2 linked regions of the Homo sapiens genome follow. The protein of the gene in region 1 purifies or fractionates together with the protein of each later gene. This does not show direct contact. Each region holds a gene or a part of one and is shown in the gene's direction. Other genes may lie near its edges.

Region 1 (3,990 bases):
CTCCCAAAGTGCTGGGATTACAGGTGTGAGCCACCACACCTGGCCGTATTTCTTAAGATACTTTTCAACATGGGGCCTTACAGCATAATTTTATATTTTGAAATTAGCTGGCTGGGTGTGGTGGCTCATGCCAGTAATCCCAGCACTTTGGGAGGCTGAGGCAGGTGGATCGCTTGAGGTCAGGAGTTCAAGACCAGCCTGGCCAACATGGTGAAACCCCATCTCTACTGAAAATACAAAAAATTAGCTGGGCGTGGTGGTGCGTGCCTTTAATCCCAGCTACTTGGGAGGCTGAGGCAGGAGAATTGCTTGAACCCAGGAGGCGGAGGTTGCAGTGAGCCAAGTTTGCGCCACTGCACTCCAGCCTGGGTGACAGAGCAAGACTCTGTCTCAAATAAAAAGAAAAAAAAAAAAGAAGTTAGGATAATTAAAAATAAAAATCATGTTGGTGATGTAAAAGAATGCGAATAAAGAAGTGGTAAGAGATTAAAGTGAAGAAAGGCTGTAGAATACTATACACTGATTGGCAATATTCAATTCTGTGCTTCATGTTGTTATGGAATAAGGTAACTGTTCTGTCTTTGATATAGAAGTATATTGTTCTCGCTGTTCGTATTACTACATTATGTTGGTTAAGCTGGCGAAAAGTACATTATGATCTTTGGAAAAATGAAAGTTATTAATATTTAATTAAAATAGTTTTAATTTATTAATAAGATGTAAACTTTTAATCTTTCAGACCAGTCTTTGAAGTGGTGAATTAAAACAATTTGTAATTTTTTTTCAAAAGGTGGCCGCTGTTCCTCCAACTCCCCAGCCTTTAGCTCCTACACCTTCAGCACCCTGCCCAGCTACTCCTGCTGGACCAAAGGGAAGGGTGTTTGTTAGCCCTCTTGCAAAGAAGTTGGCAGTAGAGAAAGGGATTGATCTTACACAAGTAAAAGGTAAATCTGTTTCTATAGAATGGACTTTATAAAGTTAAAATTTAGTTGAATTTCCTCCTTAAGACTTGCAAGTACAACTATGTATAGCCGTACTTATAATTGGGATAGTAGGGACAATCATTAATAATTCCTTCAGAAGGGAGAAATAGTTCTTTTGTTGCCACCACAGAGTAGGGAAACTTTTACTGAGCTTTATTTACTCTGCCTAGAATCTACCCATACACTTTAGATACCTTTTTTTTTCCTCTTCTATTCATGGAAACTGCTTGTTTGGTGAAAGTATATGTAAAATTTGGTTATGGGACTTGATTATGTAATAAGAAACCTCTGTTAGTGCTTGGTTGACTGTAGCAATAAGCAAAGCAAAATAAAATTTGAAGTTGGGGTGATTTGGAATGACTTAATAAAATTCATATAAAACAGAACTAGAGCTCCCTGAAGGCAAGGGAAAACGCCTTACTTGTCTGTCTGCCGCCAAAGAAAAAATATAGCTTTGTGATAAGAGCATGGGGCCTGGAATCAGACCACCTAGCATTTAATCCTGGCTTTATAATTTTCTATGTAATATGTTTTCCAGTGAATTACTTAGATTGTATGTCCTTATGTCAATTACTTTTCTATCTGTAAAACTGAGGTACTGTACATCGTATAGATTGTGAGAGTTAAATGAGCTATAACAGGTGAAGTGCTTAGAACTGTATCTAGCATATAAGTACTCAATACATGTTAGTTGTCATTCATATTGATATTACTGCCTGGTGCTTAAATAAGTTTTTTTGAATTAAACTTAAGCTAAAATTTAGTGTAGGATAACTAAGGTACTTATTTGGAATGGGGGGAAGTTATTATGCTTGGAACTTGGTTTGATGGCTTGTACTATGTGTCAGTCATTTAACTTACCATACTTAATGTACACAACACTTCTTGAAGTAAGAATTATCATTCCTTATTTTCTGGATAAGAAAACAGACTCTCAGACTCTTCAGGGTTCTTCCTTCCTGTTAAATAGTAAAGTTGCAGTGTAACTCTAGATTTGTTTAACTCTAAAGCCTGTTTCTTCACACTACCCTATCCTGCCTTCTGTTTTGATGCTCTGCCATCCATAATTACTAAAGAAAAATATGCTTATTTCCCCAATTTTCTAGTTATGGGTACTCAATGGTGGTTATCCCGTATCTGCAATTTGCTATCTTGTAGTTAGAAGTCAAGCCAATCCCAAGACACAAGAGTAGAATGTTGTAAATTTTTTGGACCTCAGAGATTCTTGTAATATTGGAAGATTCTTTTTTTTCCATCTTAATGCCATTTCAGTAGTATATTGCTATCATATATGTATATATGATTAGAATCAGGGACAGCAGTGTAAGTTGGAGTAACTTTTAAAGGGAGAAAGGACTGGGTTAATAATTATATCTAAAGAATTTAGACAAGCAAAGAAGGACCATTTATTAGATATTCAGCAATACTCGTTACCTTACTAAAGATATAAGTGGAAAATCCCTTAGGTATGAGCTGAGAGGAGTGTTAAAAAAAAAAAAGAAAGAAAGAAAATCCCACTGTTCTTACTATGCAGGCAGAGTTAGGTGATAAATATCATCGACTGCTATCTACACATCAGACACTTGTTCATCAGATGGATAAGATTTCAGTTTCAGTTGCTTATATGACCAACAATAAAGAATTAAATGAACAGAAAGGGAGTATAGCATAGTAGTTAAGAGTGTGAGCTCTGTAGCTGGAATGCTTGGGTATGAACCTCAGCTCTTTATACTAGCTGTGTGACCTTTTGTGTCACAATTTCTTTGTATATAAAAACATTAGGTTTAATGGTTGTGAGGTTTAAATAAGTTAACCAGTGCCTGTACAGAGAAAGCATATCTAGGTATTAGCTATAATGATAATAATATTTTTGTTATTAAATAAGATGATTTGAGTGCTAAGAAAGAAAGAAACTCAGTGATATACTAGTGAGTGAAAGGGTGAATGGATATATGTGCAGTCATGACTACTTTTAGACAGGTTGGTTGGGAGATCTTTTTGATGAGGTGACATTTGATTTGTTTTGAAAGATAAGAAGGAGGCAGCTTGAGCCAACCATGTGAAGAACTGGGGAAAGATCATTTTGGATAGAGAGACTAGCTGTACACAGTCTGAAATGGGAAAGAGTTTAGCATGTCTGAGGAACATAAAAGAGGCCAGTGTTGGCCAGGCGCAATGGCTCACGCCTGTAATCCCAGCACTTTGGGAGGCCGAGGCAGGTGGATCACAGGTCAGGAGATGGAGACCATCCTGGCTAACACGGTGAAACCTCGTCTCTACTAAAAATACAAAAAAATTAGCTGGGCATGGTGGCAGGCGCCTGTGGTCCCAGCTACTCGGGAGGCTGAGGCAGGAGAATGGCGTGAACCTGGGAGGCCAAACTTGCAGTGAGCCGAGATAGTGCCACTGCACTCCAGCCTGGGCGACAGAGCAAGACTCCGTCTCAAAGAAAAAAAAAAAAGGCCAGTGTTAATGAAGCATAATGAGCAAAGGGTCTAGTAGGAGATGAGATTGGAAAAAAACAGGGATGAGAACATAAATGACCTTATAGATTATGGTAAAGAGTTTGAATTTTATTTAAAGTACTTGAGGAAGCCATTGAGAAATTTAAGCAAAGAAGTGAAATAAAATGATTATGTTTTGAAAAGATCATTTTGGTTGCTCCATGGAAATGGATGAAACGTTTATATAGTTTATGTTTGACAAGATCCCTACTTTTTGTTACCCATAGTCCAGTGTTGTTCCCTTTATACCATATTGCTTTATGATGGCCTGTTGTGCCGCCCAAGAGAGATAGGGAAAAGGGTTTACAAGGTTTCAACTAACTCCTAAGTCAGGAAATTCTTGTGGGTGGCTGAAGCTTAGCATAAGGCAGGTGGTACTATGGATTTCCTCCTCTTGAGGGACTGTGGTGTCTAGATCAGCCTTGGTTGTAAGGGGAGGTTATGGTTTCTGTCTTTTACAAAGGAGAGAAATCTAATAGGGGTACTACCACCTCTGTTCTAGA
Region 2 (3,957 bases), on another chromosome or scaffold:
AGTTTTAATTTACACTGTTAGAATCTGGAATTTTTGAAACGTTTTTCCTCTTTCACATGAATGGTTCCTATGTATTTAGGAAGTTAAAGTTTTACTTTTTTTTAATTAATTTTTTTTTTTAGGCTGGAATGCAGTGGCACAGTCATAGCTCACTGTAGCCTCAGGTGTGTGCCACCATACCTGACTAATTTTTTAATATTTATTTTTGTAGAGATGAGAGTCTCATGTTGCCCAGGCTGGCTTTGAACTCCTGGCTTCAAGTGGTCCTCCCACCCTGGCCTCCCAAAGTGCTGGGGATTATAGGTGTGAGCCATCATGCCCGGCCTAGTTTTTATTTTTTAAAATTTGAGTGGGTTGTTCGTGGTCTCTGTCAGAGAGGAATCCCATTTAACAGAGAATCTTTTTATGGCTCTCCAGAGAAAATGAATGGTAAACTTATCTTTTCAACAAGCTCTCACTCAGAAATGATACACACACACTTCTGATAGGACTTTTAGCTTCTTTAACTTTGTTCCTTTCACTCATATCAGTGGTTCTTATTTTTGAGATACACAGTAATGAAGCCATGGGAGAAAGTATCTAAGTAGCTTTCTGGCAGTCCTAATCTTTGCAGGCGCAAGATTACAGGCGCATGCCACAGCACTGGGCCCCTTCTTGCTCTTTATTGTATAGCATTATCCTGCCTCATTGTTTCAACTCTAGGATTGAGAAAGAAGTTACCTTTTCTCTGTTACTGTCGCCTGGCTGGTTTGGACTCCTGCCTTCCAAAAACTGCAGTTTCTGTAGTTGTATTTGGAAATTTATTTCACAATACAATAAATTTCTGGCCCCACAAAATATTTATTAACTGCCAAGAATAACACATCTGTTTGATTGCTAAATATAACCATTGATTTGCTGTTTCACCTTCTCTCAGCTTTACTTCTTCCCAAATTCCTAAATTTCCTTCACTTTTTCTGAGATACATTAGTGGACTGTCTCTGCCTGTAAGTTAACTGAAACACTGATTCCTAGTATTTCAGTTGTTTTCCTCCAGCACTGTCATTGTCTGTGTTTGTTGGCTTTGTCCAATAATGGTCTATTGAGGGGTGAAGATATACGTAATTAGCTTTCTGCCTATTGGCTTGTACACTCCAGGGTATACTTGGCAGATCAGTCTTAACTCTTCTCACCAAGATCAGTCCAGTGCTGGATTAGGTAAGGTATGAACACATCAGATGTGCTTTTTATGGAGAAATCATGTTGGTTTACACGTCAGTGTGTGAGAATGTGGCAGAAGGGAGCTAAAATAGTATGATAATACTACTGGATAAATTTTGTGGTCTAACCTAAACCTTAGCCATTACATAGAATACTTTTGCTGTGAGCAGGTTTGCTCAGTTGTAAAACTGGAAAGGAATCATTTCTCACCCCCCGCCTCCAAGCTTTTTACCTCCAAACAGTGACAGCCACCCAAACATCAAGAGAACAGTGTTTCAGAGAACATTTCTACTGGGGCTTCAGGAGGAGCCTGTCCAAGATTTAGGCTGTTCAAATTATAAATTATAAAACAGCTGGCTCAAGCCCATTGTGTTTAAGTCAGAGAGTGCTAAGTATCTTTTCTTTTGTCTTGTCTCCCTAAAGTATTTATCTCATACTTCAATCAATTTAAAATATTTTTTCTTACAGATCCAATTTGATAGAAGAGTCAAGTTTGCCTAGAGTGGAGATTAAATCATAGTTTTATTTGAAGTATAATTTTGGCTTGCTCAAAATGAACAGTATCTGGTTATGACTAAGAATGGCATGAAAAGGCCAGACGCAGTGGCTCATGCCTGCAATCCCAGTACTTTGGGAGGCCAAGGCAGGTGGATCACCTGAGGTCAGGAGTTGGAGACCAGCCTGGCCAACATGGTGAAACCCCATCTCTACTAAAAATATAAAAATTAGCCGGGCGTGGTGGTGGGCACCTGTAATCCCAGCTACTCGGGAGACTGAGACAGGAGAAATCACTTGAACCCGGGAAGCGGAGGTTGCAGTGAGCCGAGATCGCACCACTGCACTCCAGCCTGGGTGATAAAAGCAAAACTCCGTCTCAAAACAAACAAACAAAAGAATGGCATAAACAGACACAGCTCACAGATGATCTAGTCTCTTTAGCCACTAATTTCATTATATTCTCACTATAATTTCTTTGAAAACAAAGGATGGGTTTGTTTTTTGCCCCTCTTTGCGCTGCTTGCCTTCAGATGCGGGATAATCCTGTTTCATTGGCCAAAGCATGGATTCATTTTGGAGGCCAAGGAAGATGCAAACACAGTGCACAGGGTGGAAGAGAAGCCTATGAATATGTTGGGGCTTATTAAATTTCCATAACTTCATTCTGATAACTGATTATTATACTTTCCAAAATAGCTGACAATTAAAAAGTACTGATTTGTTTGTATATTTTTGTCTTTTAAGGCAAGCAGAGTGCTGGTAGCATCCCGTAATTTTGCAAATGATGCTACATTTGAAATTAAGGTAAGAGGTGTTTTACTTTGTTAATAATTTTTTCACAGGTACACTCTGATATACAGTTTTACCTTTAGAATAGAACATTTTGATGTTCATGCTTAGTCATCATTTTCTTCTAAATGTTCCAGGATCAGAAGTTCAGAGAAGCTTCACGAAAACTAGAATTTATTATTAGCAGCTTGCTGTTGTTCTGTGGGGGGAAGGGGGAGGAGCTAGAAAATGAAAATAAAAATAAAAGCTTATTCAAAAGTTTGGAATGTAATTCAGTGAAATATTTGAATAAGAAGAGTCTTAGTTGTTTCTTTGAAGGTTCTTTCAACCTATAACTCAGTTGGCTTCTAGGGGCTTTCAGTGAAAATCATCTTAGAAAGATTTCCTTCCCCCAAGCCCCATCTCATTGCACAGTGAGGTTTATGGATTTAAGGAACAGAGGCGATATGAAGCATTACTGATGTGCTCCTTTGCAGTTTTTCAAGTTCAATATTATTTGCAATGGAGTTAGATCTTAGAGTGGTCAACAGTGTTTGCAATGTAGTATGTGGAGGATAATAACTACCTTATTCCATTTCAGAAATGTGACCTTCACCGGCTGGAAGAAGGCCCTCCTGTCACAACAGTGCTCACCAGGGAGGATGGGCTCAAATACTACAGGATGATGCAGACTGTACGCCGAATGGAGTTGAAAGCAGATCAGCTGTATAAACAGAAAATTATTCGTGGTTTCTGTCACTTGTGTGATGGTCAGGTGAGTGGTAGGTTTGTGGTGGAACTGTGTTATTTAGGTACTGAAGTATGGCTTGTACTTATTGGGCTTTACCCTGCCATATGTATCAGAAGAGTTTGAGGCTGGTAATGTAATTTTCTTTTATTTATTTATTTTTTTGAGACAGTCTCTCTCTGTCGCCCAGGTTAGAGTACAGTGGTGATCTTGGCTCACTGCAGCCTCTGGTTAGAGTACAGTGTGATCTTGGCTCACTGCAGCCTCTGTCCACTGGGCTCAAGCAATCCTCCCACCTCAGCCTCCCGAGTATGTGGGACCACAGGTGCACACCAACACACCCAGCTAATTTTTGTATTTTTTGGAGATACGGGGTTTCACTATGTTGCCCAGGCTAGTCTCAAACTTCTGGGCTCAAGTGGTCCGCCCACCTTGGCCTCCCAAGGTGCTAGGATTACAGGCGTGAGCCACTGTGCCTGGCTGAAGCCAGTATTTTAGAATTAAAAAGTAGAATGCCAAAACCTGCTATGAAGCTTAGGCTAAAGAATTCATTCACACATAACATTGCCAGTTTTCTGTACCTGTTCTTAGAGTTTTACTATTTTAAAACTTTCTGGCACTATGATCGCCTGTACTGTATATAATTTGGAGAGAAAGGATTAGTTTGTTTTTTGTTTTGTGGGCTTAGGTCAAGGGTTAGAGTCAAATACCTACAAGGGCCAGCCAGGTAGAATAAATGAGTG

Evidence for each region. Proteins that work in one complex are often made in the same cells at the same time.
Region 2: the proteins of DLAT (region 1) and PDHA1 fractionate together in Homo sapiens (co-fractionation; 3 studies listed by BioGRID). This does not show direct contact.

Annotation. Positions count from the first base shown.
Region 1 is NC_000011.10:112,038,454-112,042,443, forward strand, and holds part of DLAT (dihydrolipoyllysine-residue acetyltransferase component of pyruvate dehydrogenase complex, mitochondrial isoform 2 precursor), read left to right. Parts: intron 1-790; coding exon 791-944; intron 945-3,990.
Region 2 is NC_000023.11:19,346,870-19,350,826, forward strand, and holds part of PDHA1 (pyruvate dehydrogenase E1 component subunit alpha, somatic form, mitochondrial isoform 1 precursor), read left to right. Parts: intron 1-2,442; coding exon 2,443-2,502; intron 2,503-3,067; coding exon 3,068-3,241; intron 3,242-3,957. UniProt on the Homo sapiens protein: The pyruvate dehydrogenase complex catalyzes the overall conversion of pyruvate to acetyl-CoA and CO(2), and thereby links the glycolytic pathway to the tricarboxylic cycle.